Linked DNA regions of Homo sapiens: regions 1 and 3 are each reported to be linked to region 2. The links are microRNA targets in miRTarBase. Many come from high-throughput screens and were not tested one by one. Region 2 holds a microRNA gene; each other region holds the end of a gene's coding sequence.
The links. Region 2 holds the annotated microRNA hsa-miR-548g-3p (AAAACUGUAAUUACUUUUGUAC, at 2,271-2,292, shown strand). A microRNA usually pairs through its seed, bases 2 to 8, with sites in the 3' UTR of a target mRNA and lowers its output. Matches are read on the target gene's strand: a 7mer-m8 pairs with bases 2 to 8, a 7mer-A1 pairs with bases 2 to 7 and ends in A, and an 8mer does both.

Region 1: the mRNA of TMSB4X is a reported target of hsa-miR-548g-3p. Seed matches in the 3' UTR shown: 7mer-A1 at 3,827-3,833.
Region 3: miRTarBase lists TIGIT as a target of hsa-miR-548g-3p. Seed matches in the 3' UTR shown: 7mer-m8 at 1,595-1,601 and 7mer-A1 at 2,553-2,559.

What each region holds. Positions count from the first base shown.
Region 1 is chrX:12,975,902-12,980,962 of GRCh38, reverse strand. It overlaps TMSB4X (thymosin beta 4 X-linked), which reads right to left. Exons shown (of 3, transcript NM_021109.4): 2 at 4,602-4,717; 3 at 3,740-4,186. The coding sequence starts at 4,701. The coding sequence ends at 4,152. Among named protein-coding and RNA genes, the nearest start is that of TMSB4X, 3.3 kb to the right of the region's middle. RefSeq lists enhancers at 1,381-1,440, 3,041-3,160, 4,296-5,061 and a cis regulatory region at 2,395-2,687.
Region 2 is chr4:147,341,861-147,346,934 of GRCh38, reverse strand. MIR548G (microRNA 548g) reads left to right here and starts at 2,218; the gene lies at 2,218-2,306.
Region 3 is chr3:114,307,143-114,312,203 of GRCh38, forward strand. It overlaps TIGIT (T cell immunoreceptor with Ig and ITIM domains), which reads left to right. Exons shown (of 4, transcript NM_173799.4): 4 at 753-3,146. The coding sequence ends at 989. LOC124909411 (a long non-coding RNA gene) reads left to right here and starts at 4,937. Exons shown (of 2, transcript XR_007096008.1): 1 at 4,937-5,017. RefSeq lists enhancers at 111-180, 301-380, 711-810, 1,564-1,613, 1,784-1,963.

The DNA of each region.
Region 1 (5,061 bases), not on the chromosome of region 2:
TTGGCTCAAGCCTGTAATCCTAGCACTTTGGGAGGCCGAGGCGGGCGGATTGCCTGAGCTCAGGAGTTCGAGACCAGCCTAGGCAACATGGTGAAACCCCCGTCTCTGTTAAAATACAGAAAAAAAAAAAAAATTAGCCCAGCATGGCAGCATGCGTCTGTAGTCCCAGCTACTTGGGAGGCTGAGGCAGGAGAATTGCTTGAACCCAGGAGGTGGAGGTTGCAGTGAGCCGAGATTGTGCCACTGCACTCCAGCCTGGCGACAGAGTGAGACTCCATCTCAAAAAACAAAAACAAAAACAAAAAACTCAGCACAACCAAAGTCAGGCAAATTGCTGTTCAAAGCTCTTTAAATATATTTGTTAAAAACATATTTAAAATTGTGATGTCTAACATGACATTCACATGTTCAAAGGGACCCCCAAACCAGCATGTTAAATGAAGTCTCGACTGGGCGTGGTCGCTCACACCTGTAACCCCAGCTCTTTGGGAGGCTGAGGCAGTTGGATTGCTTGAGCTCGGGAGTTTGAGACGAGCCTGGGCAACATGGCGAAATAAAAAATAAAAAAAAAAAAATTAGCCAGGCATGGTGGCGCATGCCTGTGGTCCCAGCTACTCGGAAGGCTGAGGTGGGAGGATCCCTTGAGCCTGGGAGGCGGAGGTTGCAGTGAGCCGAGATTGCGCCACTGCCCTCCTGCCTGTGACAGAGAGAGACCCCATCTCAAAAAAAATAAAAATAAAAAAAAATGAAGTCTCCATCAAGTAAGGGGAGAAGTGTGCTTTGAGGCACAGAAGGAAGAGTGCGTGGTGTATGCACACAGTGAATGTGGCATGCACCAGCCCTGCCTACAAAAGTCTCAGAAGCCAGGGGCAAAGATGGTATTAGCACGACAATGTGATTACAGAAATAAAATGCTATGCAAGTGTCCAAGGAAAATATAAACTAGGTAAATACAGGTCTTAGAAACATATTTTCTTCCTAGCTTGCTTTGTTGTATATCTCTGCCTTACATTTGTAATTTCACCCCTTCTCATTACATGCAGAGAAAACCTAGTTGAGTCCCAAATTGGTGTGTTTGATTCTCTTAGATTGCAGTGTAAGCCACTCTTGAAAGTGTAATCGAAAAGAAAGGATTTGGGGAGTGTGGAGTGCGGAGGGTGGTTTTTTCTTATTTTCTTGCTAGGCTAGTGAAGGCTACTAGGGTAAATGAAGCATTGAGTGCTTTCAACGTTTTTAAACAACGTTTGAAGTTTCCATTCTTGAACAAAGAAAGACTCAAGATTTTTTATTTTTACTCTTTGTCTGTAATATTGTCTCCAAAACGCTCTGTTCTTTCTCGTTAGCACAAAATTGACCCCATATGTTTAGAAAAAAAAAATGCAAAAATATTTTCTTTTTGTCTCTTGAGGAATTAGATGCTTCTTTGGGGGAAAATAAACAGACCTTCCTTGTGCATTTAAAGGAGACAATACCTGATTCTGACTATAATGGGTCTCTTACACAGCCGAGAGACTCAAAGTTTGTGAAGATTTTGAACCCCACCTCCCCCCCATACACACTCAATCTTTGCATACACAGCCCAAAAGCTGTGTTGTTCTCCTGAAAGAATAAAATAGCTTTAAAATTCCAACCACTGGAAGGCTGCAAATGTGGCTGTGATGGTTGACAAATTTGCGAGATTTCAAAATGAAGCCAGCTCAATCTCAAAGGTCCTTTAGTGAGTCTCTTTTTATTTCCTTTATTTTTGCTTTATTTGTCTTGGTCAATTCAAAATTTGCAGAAATCCCAGACTAAACTGTGTGACCTTCGGGGCTTACTTAAGCTACCTTGGCCTGTTTTGTCCTGGGGGGAAGAGAAACAGTCATAGGGTCTCCTTCAATCCCAACGTTCTCTCATTCTAAGGGTAAACCTAATGTCCTCTTTGTATCTGTGAAAAATACTGTCGACTCCCAAGTCCTACATAGCAGGAACATATATCCCCACACTGACTCATAAATACCCCCAGCCCTTCTGGGAAGAATCTCTCTTGGGAAAAACAAAGAATCCCCCATCAAAATTAAAAAAATAAATTCTCTCCCATCCCCGTGTGCAGCAGTTAAGTGTACAGAGTGTGATATGGGCAGAAGCTTCTGAATTTCCCCATTCCACACGTCAAGCAGCCTGAATTCAATCATTACCATTTTACTTTTTTTTTTTTGTGCTATGTTTTAGCTTCGTCCCTCTAGGGGAGAAAGGTCTTTTAGTCCATGAATTATCCCTTTTCCTAAATGTTCCTTCTTCAACTGAGGAACACTGGAGCTGTGTTAATTTCTTAAAATCTTCTTTCGTCTTTGCATTGTTTGAAAAAGGCACACAGCAAAAGCCCACGTGGGAATGGTTTCTCTTTGTGCCTTGGGCATTTGCACTGTGCCCACACCCTTCCCTATAGGCAAGAAAACTACAGGGCTCCAGGCCCGTCTCCATCTTGAGATGGCTCCAGAACCTTTGTGCTTACTCCTCTCTTCACGGAGCTAAGCGGGCTGTGGCGCTTCAGGTTTTGTAGCAGCCTCTGCAGCAGCCTGTACACACCCCTTCCCTTGCAACGCAGAGCAAGGCTTCTAGCCTGATGGTCTACTTGATTGTCTAAACCACAGGTAAATGGTTTCCTGTGCATTTCTCAAAATAAGCGTTGAGCAAAGGAAATGAAAGCAACCAATTTAATAGTGATCAACAATTTTCCCTACCCCTCCGCTTCAAAAAGGGTATTTTCATAAATCGGTTTTGAGAGAAAAATGTTTAACTTCTTGGACATTTGCGTTGTAAAATTTAGCTTTGCAGAACATTCAGTGAACTAAGAGCCTTCTTAAATGCTGTTGTTTCGGCTTAATAAAACTGGTGCTTATTTAAAAAAAAAAGTCTCCACCCTTCCCTACAGAACCGAGGAATCCATTAAGGACCTTATAGAATGGCAAATCTTTTTTTAACTCTTAAAAAATTGACGTTGTTTCCGTCTTCCCGCACCAAGGACTTTGCTTTTACCCATCAGTGAAAATAACTACTTCCGATGATTGAGAAGTTATCAAGGACTCAAAGACCTAAATGTGAGTCAATTAATTCCCGCTGGATTTAAACTTAGTACAAATCTCACCTGTGTCCTGCTAGTGTCCTTTAAACCCAAAAGATCGAATAAGTATCTTTTAAATCCAAAGATTATTCAAATGAAGAGGACCCAATAAATTTAAAATCATGTTCACTAATCTTAACTGTATTCATTAAAGCAATTGTAAATATTGAACTCTGATTAGAAACCGGCCATTAGAAAATGAGTAAGCTCAAGTCCTAAATTCCTTCTTAACGCAGCTGCTAAAAATGTAATTTTTACTCATCTATGTTAATGCTAGCACTTGGTTAAATAACCAAGTTCAATTTGATACCCTGAAATAAGATACTGTGCTGTAAATTATCACCTTCATTTTCTTGAGCACGTGCAATGTCAGCTTATCAAAACCCGTAAGAACTGCAAAGATATTTTTATTAAAGCTCTCACACAATTCATACTAGGAATTCAATCAGCCTGAGAAAATGATCTCCTAGTATAGACAAGGTATTTTGCATACCTGGGTGAAACCCATTTCTATGCCATAAGGGAATTTATCCAGTCACCAGATGCTTGTCCCTCCCCAATGGACCAAGAGGTAGGCCTCTTTGCAAAGGTTTCATCCGCGATCCTTCCAGAAACCAAACAGACACACCAGCTAAGTTTTTAAACTTTTTATTTGCATATTAAAAAAATTGTGCATTCCAATAATTAAAATCATTTGAACAAAAAAAAAAATGGCACTCTGATTAAACTGCATTACAGCCTGCAGGACACCTTGGGCCAGCTTGGTTTTACTCTAGATTTCACTGTCGTCCCACCCCACTTCTTCCACCCCACTTCTTCCTTCACCAACATGCAAGTTCTTTCCTTCCCTGCCAGCCAGATAGATAGACAGATGGGAAAGGCAGGCGCGGCCTTCGTTGTCAGTAGTTCTTTGATGTGAAAGGGGCAGCACAGTCATTTAAACTTGATCCAACCTCTTTGCATCTTACAAAGTTAAACAGCTAAAAGAAGTAAAATAAGAAGGCAATGCTTGTGGAATGTACAGTGCATATTGGCGGCGCACGCCTCATTACGATTCGCCTGCTTGCTTCTCCTGTTCAATCGCTGTGACCAGAAAAAAAAAAAAAAAAAAGATGGAGGGAGATGATTAAAGGATTCAGTACAGACTAAAGGGCTTTCATTTAAAGCATCTTTTCAAATCATAAACATTCTACACGGTATTCCACAATGGAATAAAATATGTATATTGAATATACTAAATAGAAATACATTTTAATGGATAAATGTTTGTATATTAATATGGCATATTAAATATTCCATTACTAAATTACTAAAGCCCCGTGTTTGTTGGCTGCAAAACCATTTTTAATTAACCTTTGCAAGCCACATTCATCAACTGTCGGCTCTTCCCCCGCACTCCCCCCTCCCGAATTCTTCCCGCGGCCGCTCCCAGCCTCCCGCCCTCCCACCGGCCGCTCCCACCCAGCCTTTCTAAAGATGGGGGTGGGTCGGAGCTCACTTTCTTTGGAAGGCAGTGGATTTTTCTCTTGCGTCTCTGTCTTCTTCAGTTTCGACTTATCGAATTTCTCGATCTCAGCCATATCGGGTTTGTCAGACATGGTTGCGGAGGAAAAGCTGCAGGGAGCAAGCCAAGAGCGAGCGTGAGGAAGAGCCACCCGCCCCGCTGTCTCTGGGCTGGGAACTGCACTTCTGCCCTCCGACCCGCAGCCTGAAAAAAACCCTTCTCGCTCTCCTACTGCTGCCGTTCCGCGCTCACGAGCTTCCTCTTTCTACAGAAAAAGAGGCGACACCCCCCGCGCCCCTCCTCCCCATATTTCAAAACGCTGTGGACCAAAGAGGGCGGATGCCTCTCAAAGCCGAATCTTGCAGAATAAAGGAAATTGACCACTGCGAATTGTTAATTACAGCGTTTAAAATTAAAGGCTGGCTAGGACAAGGAAAGAAGAGGAAAGCCACTT
Region 2 (5,074 bases):
TGGTTCTTCCTTCAAGTCATGTCCCCAACCCAGCCACTGCTCACTGTCTTCACTGTTAACATACTACCTCAGGCCACCATCATGTCTAGTTTATAATAACTTGGCTTTCCACACATTACTTCTCACTGCAGCCAAAGTAATTTTTATAATGTAACTCAGATTTTTTACATCCCTATTAAAAAAATTCCCATAGTTTCCAAAGCCACTGGAATTAATCCAAAGCTCTTACTATGGATCCTATAAAGCTCTAACTGATTTGACACTTGATTTCTTTAACTTCACTATCCTCTGCTAGCCCCTTTGCCCACTACACTTAATATTCCCATTTTAATTTTTCATCTGCATTCCAGGCCCATCTATCTAACTATATACTTGACATGTATACTTGGATGTCTCACAAGCATCTCAAACTTAACCTGCCTACACACACACACACACACACACACACACACACACACACACACACACACCTTGTGCCTTTACCACCCACTTAATTGTTCAGAGCAGAATTAGTGGTTACTCGTTTCTTTTCTCTGTGAGGCCTGTCATTTTTATTTCAAAGAAAACCTTGAAGTCATCCCTTCTCCCCAGTTCCATTGCCAACACTCTAGTTCAAGTCACCATCATCACTAGGTTGGACTAATAGATTAGACATATTTTTTGGTCTCCCATTTCTATTTTTGCCACAGTCCACGTGAGTCTTATCTTCAATACCAGTGACAGCACGTCCTTCAATGTGCATGCTTTGTTGATCTGCATGCATTAAAAGAATAACATGCTTTTGTGAAAAGTTGGGGGGTGTTGTCCATCTGGCGAGAATACAGATCAGGCTTTGAAAATGCCTTAAGAAAATGCCTAACTTGCCAATTATACTTTTGGTATTCAAAATATATAGATATAGCATCTGTATTAGTTAGTTTTTATGCTGCTGATACATACCAGAGACTGGGTAATTTATATAGGAGAAAGGGTTTAATGGACTTACAGTTCCACATGGCTGGGGATGCCTCACAGTCATGGTGGAAGGCAAGGAGGAACAAGTCACATCATGCATGAATGGCAGCAGGCAAAGACAGAGAACTTGTGCAGAGAAAATCCCCCTTATAAAACCATCAGATCTGTGAGACTTATTCACTGTCTTGAGAACAGCACAGGAAAGACCTGCCCCCATGATTCAATGACCTCCTACTGGGTCCCTTCCACAACACGTGGGAATTCAAGATGAGATTTGAGTGGGGACACAGCCAAACCATAGCTTCTATATTGTTCCAACTCCAAATCAGAAGATTAGGCCTAATAATGCATAGATTGATGATGACAACTCAGGACTATCCTGGAAAATTCAGGCCAAAAAGTTAGGAACATATTGACTGCAATAGGAAATAGAAAATATGTGGGCTGTTGCTAGGAATTCTTTCCTTTAACTAAAATCTATCTTTTTAAAAGTCAGAAGAGCAAGTATTGTAAAAAAAAGTAAGTTTACACTTATTCTACCCAAGGGGTAAAAACATGTAGCTAAGTAAATTCTTCATCTCCCTTTTCTCAGAACTCCTTAAAGAACTTAGGGAAATGTGATGTGAGCAACCATAGTTCCCTAGATTACTCCACTTTTTTTCTGTTATTAAATAAGGAAATTTTATACCTTGAATCTTATATCAACAGTTGCTATATAAAAACCACCCTAAAGCTCAATGGCTTAAAACAATAATTTATTTAGCTTATGATTCTGGTGGTTACCAGTTTGAGTTGTTTGCAGCTGGGCAGTTCTTCTGCTGGCTTCTCCTGGGATCACTCATGCAGCTGTAGTTATCTGGTATCTCGACTGGAGTGAGATGGCCTAAAGAAGCTTTCTTCAACTGTCTGGCAGGTGGTGCTGACCATCAGCTGGGCTTCTCTCTGAGGGTGGTTGTTATCCTCAAGAGGGCTAGCATGTGCTTTTATCCATAAGAGGGCTAGCCTGGACTAGAGTGTGAGAGCAGAAGCTGCAAGGCCTCTTGAAGCCCAGGCTAGGAAGCCATACAAAGTCATTTCTATTGGCCAAAGCTGGCCACAGAGACAGCTCAGATGCAAGGGGAAGAGAACTATACTCTACCACTTGACAAGGGAGTGACAAAATCACATTACCAAGTGTTAGCACGCAGGGATGAAAAGAATTGGGGCCATCATTGCCAGCAATCTACACAACTTCATTACCCCTTTAGAGAAACACTTTCTCTGAGTTATTAGATTAGTGCAAAAGTAATTGCAGTTTTTGCATTACGTTCTATGGCAAAACTGTAATTACTTTTGTACCAACATAATACTTCATATATGTATATCTGTATGTATGGTTATGTACATGTGTGTATATAGATTACATGCTGTAACTCAGAAATATACATGTATGCACACATAGCATACTTGTGCATAAATAAATTATTTACTAATATGTAGGTATGCATTAGTGAACCTATAAACATTTGGACAGGAGTTGTTTGTGGTTGTCTATTATGTTGTCTAAATGCATTTGTAAAAGGATCCATGCAATAAATGCATAAATATGTCTTAGAAGATGTGTAACTCTTAAATAAATAATTCTTTTGTTCAGATAAACAATGCATAATTCATCACTGGCCCTTATTTTGGCATCTAGAAAGCTCAGAGTTAAATGTAATGTCATTGTCCATTCTTGATATTAGCTTAGATATAATTGTCTTTCACTTAGAATTAGTTTCCAATTGCAATTATTTACTTGCTTATTGTTTATGTGTATTTATTATAAGCTACTTCAATCATTTTCAAAATGAGATGAAATATAAGCAAAACATTAAAAAACATAACAATGTGTCTTTTGAAGTATCAGATGTATTTTCATTTTAGAGAATGATAATAATGCACTCTAGAAACTCTGGAGAACCAGTTCACTTTGGCAATGTTTTTAGTCTTAGCTTATGAAATAAAGATAGTTCAAATAGTGGAGAAGAGTGCCCCAGAGAACTACTGGGCTCAAATGCTTATAGTTTAATTCGTTCTATTTCTTCCACTTCACAATCAATCATCTAGAAAAGCCATGATGACTCATCCTTAAAAAAGAGTCATTGATTTTATATCTCCATTTTCAATCTGCTCTTCAATTCACCTCTTTCTCCTTCTAATTCAGAAAGGAGTCTTCATGGAGAAACAAATAATTAATTTGGTTATTGGCCAATATCAGGTTATTCTCTCACATGTGAGAGATATCTAAAAATAAAGCTACTTTTTTCACTTTCGGTTCTTGTCATTATTTTTAGTAAATTTCTGAATTATAAACTCCCAATTCATACCATGCATAATATTTTTCTTTGATTTTCCTTTTCTCTCCAAAAGAATCCAAATATTTCTCCACAACACAATTGCATTTGTCTTGCCCTTTTTAGACTAGAAGTGCAAAGAATGCAAATGGGTATGGAGGCTATACCATTTTAGTCATTTAATTGTTCAATCACACTTCACTGATTCAGGGATGGCTTATCTGGCAAACTCTACCACCCAGGGCACAGTCACCAACCTGTAATAAGCAAAGAATTGCCAGGAAAATGTTATATTACATTCAAGTTGTCAATTTTAAAAGACATGGGAAGATTTCCACCGAAATTGTTTTTTTTTTTTTTTTTTTTTTTTTGAGACGGAGTCTCGCTCTGTCGCCCAGGCTGGAGTGCAGTGGCACCATCTCGGCTCACTGCAAGCTCCGCCTCCCGGGTTCACGCCATTCTCCTGCCTCAGCCTCCCAAGTAGCTGGGACCACAGGCGCCCGCCACTACGCCCGGCTAATTTTTTGTATTTTTAGTAGAGACGGGGTTTCACCGTTTTAGCCGGGATGGTCTCGATCTCCTGACCTCGTGATCCGCCCGCCTCGGCCTCCCAAAGTGCTGGGACTACAGGCGTGAGCCACCGCGCCCGGCCCCGAAATTGTTATTGTTGATGTTCTTATTAGTTTCTGTGCTTTAAAGAGTTATGTTCAATTACTGGGAAATTAATTGATTGCAGGACTCATTCACCATTCTTTGCACAGTTTTTTGTTTGTTTGTTTGTTTTCTTTTTTTTTGAGACGGAGTCTCACTCTGTCGCCCAGGTTGGAGTGCAGTGGCGCGATTCGGCTCACCGCAAGCTCCACCCCTCGGGTTCACGCCATTCTCCTGCCTCAGCGTCTCTAGTAGCTGGGACTACAGGCGCCCGCCACCACGCCCGGCTAATTTTTCTAGTTTTTTTTAAGTAGAGACGGGGTTTCACCGTGTTAGTTAGGATGGTCTCGATCTCCTGACCTTGTGATCCCCCTGCCTCGGCCTCCCAAAGTGCTGGGATTACAGGCGTGAGCCACCGCGCCCGGCCTGCACACAGTTTGATGGAGCGGGCACTACACATCAGGCACTGACTAGGAGCTGGATCCTCTGTAGTGATGAACAAAACAAACACCACTGCCGCCTTGATGGAGCTTGCAGGATTGCAGTGGAGATGGACAGTTACTAAGAAAAAAAAAAAGTAGAACATGGGGGTATAATAGAGAACCCCGAGTGGGAGTGAGGAGATAGAGAGCATGATTATTTATTTAGAGTAATCAGGTAGGGCCAGAAGCCCCCAAAGAGGATGGAGCCAGCAATGTGAAAAGGGGAAGAAGGGTGCAATAGCAGAAACAACGACCAAAGGATTTGAGGTAGGAAAGAGATTGGCAATGCAGAGGTGCTGCAAGGAGGCTGGTGTGATCAGAATATGGGTTAGAGGGAGAACAGAATGATTTGGGATTGAGGAAGAAATTGCTGGATCATGGAGGGTTCTGCAGAATACAGTAAGGAGTCTGGATTTTATTCAAAGTATCATAGGAAGCCTTTGAAGGATTTCAAGCATAGTCACTGGGTAACCAGCTTGAAGTGTTTTGTTGCTCTTTGTGTTTGGTTATATTTGTTAAAAAACAAAACAAAACAAAAAAGCAATGCAGGAATGCTTCTGCAAATGTGTGGTGAAGAAATGAATACATATTTTAAAGACCCTAAATCTTAAACAATTGAGGGAGGATTATATAAGAAAAATAACTGAAAACTACAAATATAAAATGAGGAAC
Region 3 (5,061 bases), not on the chromosome of region 2:
AACCAGGGCAGTGAATATAGGGGCAGGAGTGGTTTGTTGGGGCAGGAATGTGATGGTGTCGTTTGAGACAATTTGAGTCTGAGCTTGCCGTGGGTCATCAGGTGATGATGCCCAGTGGACAGGTGGACACCTGCATCTGGAGCTCAGGGCAGAAGCCTGGGCTAGTTTAGATAGAGATTTGGGCATCTTCAGAGGACAGATGGTGGTTGTAGATGTAAGAAAGTAGATGCTCATGAAATCACTCAGAGAGCATGTTTAGCGTGAGAGAAAGCAGAGAGCAGAACCCTGGGGAACCCCACGGTTTGGGGAGCTGATGTGCAAAGAGAAAAGGGGCAGGCCTGGCTGAAGACGAAGGTGGGGGTTCAAAGGAGGAGAAGAAAATCAGGAGAGAGTGATGCCAAAGGATCCAGAGAAAGAGAACATTTCAGAAAGTAAGAGGTCGACAGAGTCAAGTGCAGTAAACAGTACAAGAAAATAGAGAATGGAAAGCTGCCTCACTAAGCTTAGTGAACAGGAAGTAACAAGGTGTGTGGCACGTGGTATATGTAGTAAGTGCAGTTTCCATGGACTAGTTAGCATTTAAATCTAGCTGTAACGCGGTTGAGAAATTAAGGGCTAAGGAATTGGTGTTGGTAAGAACATAAGTTTGCTGGTGTGCATGTGTGTAAGAAAGGAAGAGAGAGATGTCATATTGGGGATTAACTGTTGAATAACATCCCCACATACTCACTTTGTAGTTTGTTTGTTTTTAGAAGAAAGCCCTCAGAATCCATTCTGTGGAAGGTGACCTCAGGAGAAAATCAGCTGGACAGGAGGAATGGAGCCCCAGTGCTCCCTCACCCCCAGGAAGCTGTGTCCAGGCAGAAGCTGCACCTGCTGGGCTCTGTGGAGAGCAGCGGGGAGAGGACTGTGCCGAGCTGCATGACTACTTCAATGTCCTGAGTTACAGAAGCCTGGGTAACTGCAGCTTCTTCACAGAGACTGGTTAGCAACCAGAGGCATCTTCTGGAAGATACACTTTTGTCTTTGCTATTATAGATGAATATATAAGCAGCTGTACTCTCCATCAGTGCTGCGTGTGTGTGTGTGTGTGTATGTGTGTGTGTGTTCAGTTGAGTGAATAAATGTCATCCTCTTCTCCATCTTCATTTCCTTGGCCTTTTCGTTCTATTCCATTTTGCATTATGGCAGGCCTAGGGTGAGTAACGTGGATCTTGATCATAAATGCAAAATTAAAAAATATCTTGACCTGGTTTTAAATCTGGCAGTTTGAGCAGATCCTATGTCTCTGAGAGACACATTCCTCATAATGGCCAGCATTTTGGGCTACAAGGTTTTGTGGTTGATGATGAGGATGGCATGACTGCAGAGCCATCCTCATCTCATTTTTTCACGTCATTTTCAGTAACTTTCACTCATTCAAAGGCAGGTTATAAGTAAGTCCTGGTAGCAGCCTCTATGGGGAGATTTGAGAGTGACTAAATCTTGGTATCTGCCCTCAAGAACTTACAGTTAAATGGGGAGACAATGTTGTCATGAAAAGGTATTATAGTAAGGAGAGAAGGAGACATACACAGGCCTTCAGGAAGAGACGACAGTTTGGGGTGAGGTAGTTGGCATAGGCTTATCTGTGATGAAGTGGCCTGGGAGCACCAAGGGGATGTTGAGGCTAGTCTGGGAGGAGCAGGAGTTTTGTCTAGGGAACTTGTAGGAAATTCTTGGAGCTGAAAGTCCCACAAAGAAGGCCCTGGCACCAAGGGAGTCAGCAAACTTCAGATTTTATTCTCTGGGCAGGCATTTCAAGTTTCCTTTTGCTGTGACATACTCATCCATTAGACAGCCTGATACAGGCCTGTAGCCTCTTCCGGCCGTGTGTGCTGGGGAAGCCCCAGGAAACGCACATGCCCACACAGGGAGCCAAGTCGTAGCATTTGGGCCTTGATCTACCTTTTCTGCATCAATACACTCTTGAGCCTTTGAAAAAAGAACGTTTCCCACTAAAAAGAAAATGTGGATTTTTAAAATAGGGACTCTTCCTAGGGGAAAAAGGGGGGCTGGGAGTGATAGAGGGTTTAAAAAATAAACACCTTCAAACTAACTTCTTCGAACCCTTTTATTCACTCCCTGACGACTTTGTGCTGGGGTTGGGGTAACTGAACCGCTTATTTCTGTTTAATTGCATTCAGGCTGGATCTTAGAAGACTTTTATCCTTCCACCATCTCTCTCAGAGGAATGAGCGGGGAGGTTGGATTTACTGGTGACTGATTTTCTTTCATGGGCCAAGGAACTGAAAGAGAATGTGAAGCAAGGTTGTGTCTTGCGCATGGTTAAAAATAAAGCATTGTCCTGCTTCCTAAGACTTAGACTGGGGTTGACAATTGTTTTAGCAACAAGACAATTCAACTATTTCTCCTAGGATTTTTATTATTATTATTTTTTCACTTTTCTACCAAATGGGTTACATAGGAAGAATGAACTGAAATCTGTCCAGAGCTCCAAGTCCTTTGGAAGAAAGATTAGATGAACGTAAAAATGTTGTTGTTTGCTGTGGCAGTTTACAGCATTTTTCTTGCAAAATTAGTGCAAATCTGTTGGAAATAGAACACAATTCACAAATTGGAAGTGAACTAAAATGTAATGACGAAAAGGGAGTAGTGTTTTGATTTGGAGGAGGTGTATATTCGGCAGAGGTTGGACTGAGAGTTGGGTGTTATTTAACATAATTATGGTAATTGGGAAACATTTATAAACACTATTGGGATGGTGATAAAATACAAAAGGGCCTATAGATGTTAGAAATGGGTCAGGTTACTGAAATGGGATTCAATTTGAAAAAAATTTTTTTAAATAGAACTCACTGAACTAGATTCTCCTCTGAGAACCAGAGAAGACCATTTCATAGTTGGATTCCTGGAGACATGCGCTATCCACCACGTAGCCACTTTCCACATGTGGCCATCAACCACTTAAGATGGGGTTAGTTTAAATCAAGATGTGCTGTTATAATTGGTATAAGCATAAAATCACACTAGATTCTGGAGATTTAATATGAATAATAAGAATACTATTTCAGTAGTTTTGGTATATTGTGTGTCAAAAATGATAATATTTTGGATGTATTGGGTGAAATAAAATATTAACATTAGTTTCATGCTTCTTTTTATCTTTTTAACGTGGCTACTGGAAAGTCTAAAATTGCATATGTGGCTCTCATATTTCTATGTGACTGTGCTGCTCTAGTAGCTAAACCCAAGCCAAACTGATACCCAGGGAGGGTGTCTATCTATGTCTATTGGTCTCCATTTCTTTTTCTTTCAAAATAGTGTTTGAGGAAGATTTTCCTGCTTATGATGTCTTTTGGGAAATATGTAGGGAAGCATCACAGAGAAGATTGAGGAAGGGGAACACTCAGTGCTGACAGGAAGCGATGCCAGGCTTTTCTGGGTCCCCTCGTGGATTCCCTAACAGGAGGAGCGAATAGACAAATCTATGAATGAGCATTCAAGGAGGAATACATTACTGATTCCCTGACCACATTCTAAGCCTGGGCGTACAAGTCTGATCTATAATCCTGAGAATTATACTAAAGAAACGTGAGAAACTTTGAGTCATGGAGCTTTGAGATAGATGGTCTTCATGAGTGAACAGGACCTCACTATGCAATTTTATTTCCTGCCTTTTCCCCTTTTCATTTCTCACCACTGTGAGCCCCAGAAATGAGTCGTCATACACTCAGGTTCATTCAGATTCCATCAGTGCTGAGCTGGACAGGCAGGGAGGCTGGGTGTGAGGTCCACCAATGACAGCATTCTGGTGGGCACACCTCACCCCACAGAGAGGGGGCAATGGGCAGTGTGGCTGTCATTTGTGGGGTGTGAGTTTTGTTTAGTCTCCTGATTCTTTCAGGTGCTGCTTCATAGCTGTAACTGGTAGTTTCCCACACTTACTCCAAGTCACACCTGTCAAGAGGTACAGGGGAGCTTTTTGTGTGGCAAGAGCCTGAGCTTTCTGGAAGTCACAACGATATACTCAATGTTTGAGGTAATTTATTTGCATAAGGTAGTGTAGGACAATGCTATCCAAAGAACTTTCTGCAATTATGGAAATGCTCTATGTCTGTCCCATCCAGTATGGTAGCCATTAGCTGCATGTGGCTGTTGAGCACTTGAAATTTGGCTAATGTGACAAAGAAACTGAATTTTAAATTTTATTTCATTGTAATTAACAAATTTAAATGTAAATAGCAACATGTGACTGGTGGCTAGTATATTGGACATTCCAATTCTAGTAATTGCCTTGCATATAGAGAAAACACAGACAGCTGTGTTTATAGGACATTGGATGGCTCGCCAGTTGTTATGCATTTGAAATGGCTATCACCAGGAAGAAACTTGAAGGTTCTCCTCTACTCTCCTATATCCATCCTCTGATCGAGACAAACCATGAGGTCAAAGCAGGCTGTACATTTATTTATTTCAGGTTTTTTCAAAAAAAAAAATCTGAGGCAGCTAAGTGGTCCAGTTCATGTAAATAGGGCCAAAATTGTCAAGAAATTTGCAACTCATAGGGGTTATGCAGAAATAGACTGTCATCACAGGACTTACCATAGACTATATTCATTCTGACTTCATGTAGGCTGTGAAGAGCACCTTCTCTGGGACTAAAACTCTGATGGACTTCACAGAGATCAAAAAAGAAGTAATCATGGAGTGTAGTGGACAGGGAATTTAGAAACTTGGTCCAAGTGCTGAGCTCTGCAATTAGTTTCACGACTTTGGATAAGCCACTTAACCTATCAAAGACTCATAAATATTTCCTCATTTATAAAATGGTAATATTACTATCTTTCTAAGATTCTTAAGAAGATGAGGCAGGAACGTGGCTGACTGCTTTGTGAGCTGCAAGATGCTGGGTTAATATTATTGTGTTCTGCCCCAGGAACACGTGCACCAGGTAATGCTAATGATGCCACAGAAGTTTTCATGGAGGCAACAAAACTGGCTTGGAGCAACTGAGGTATCTGAAATTATCTATCAATCAATGTTCTTAAAAACTGAGAT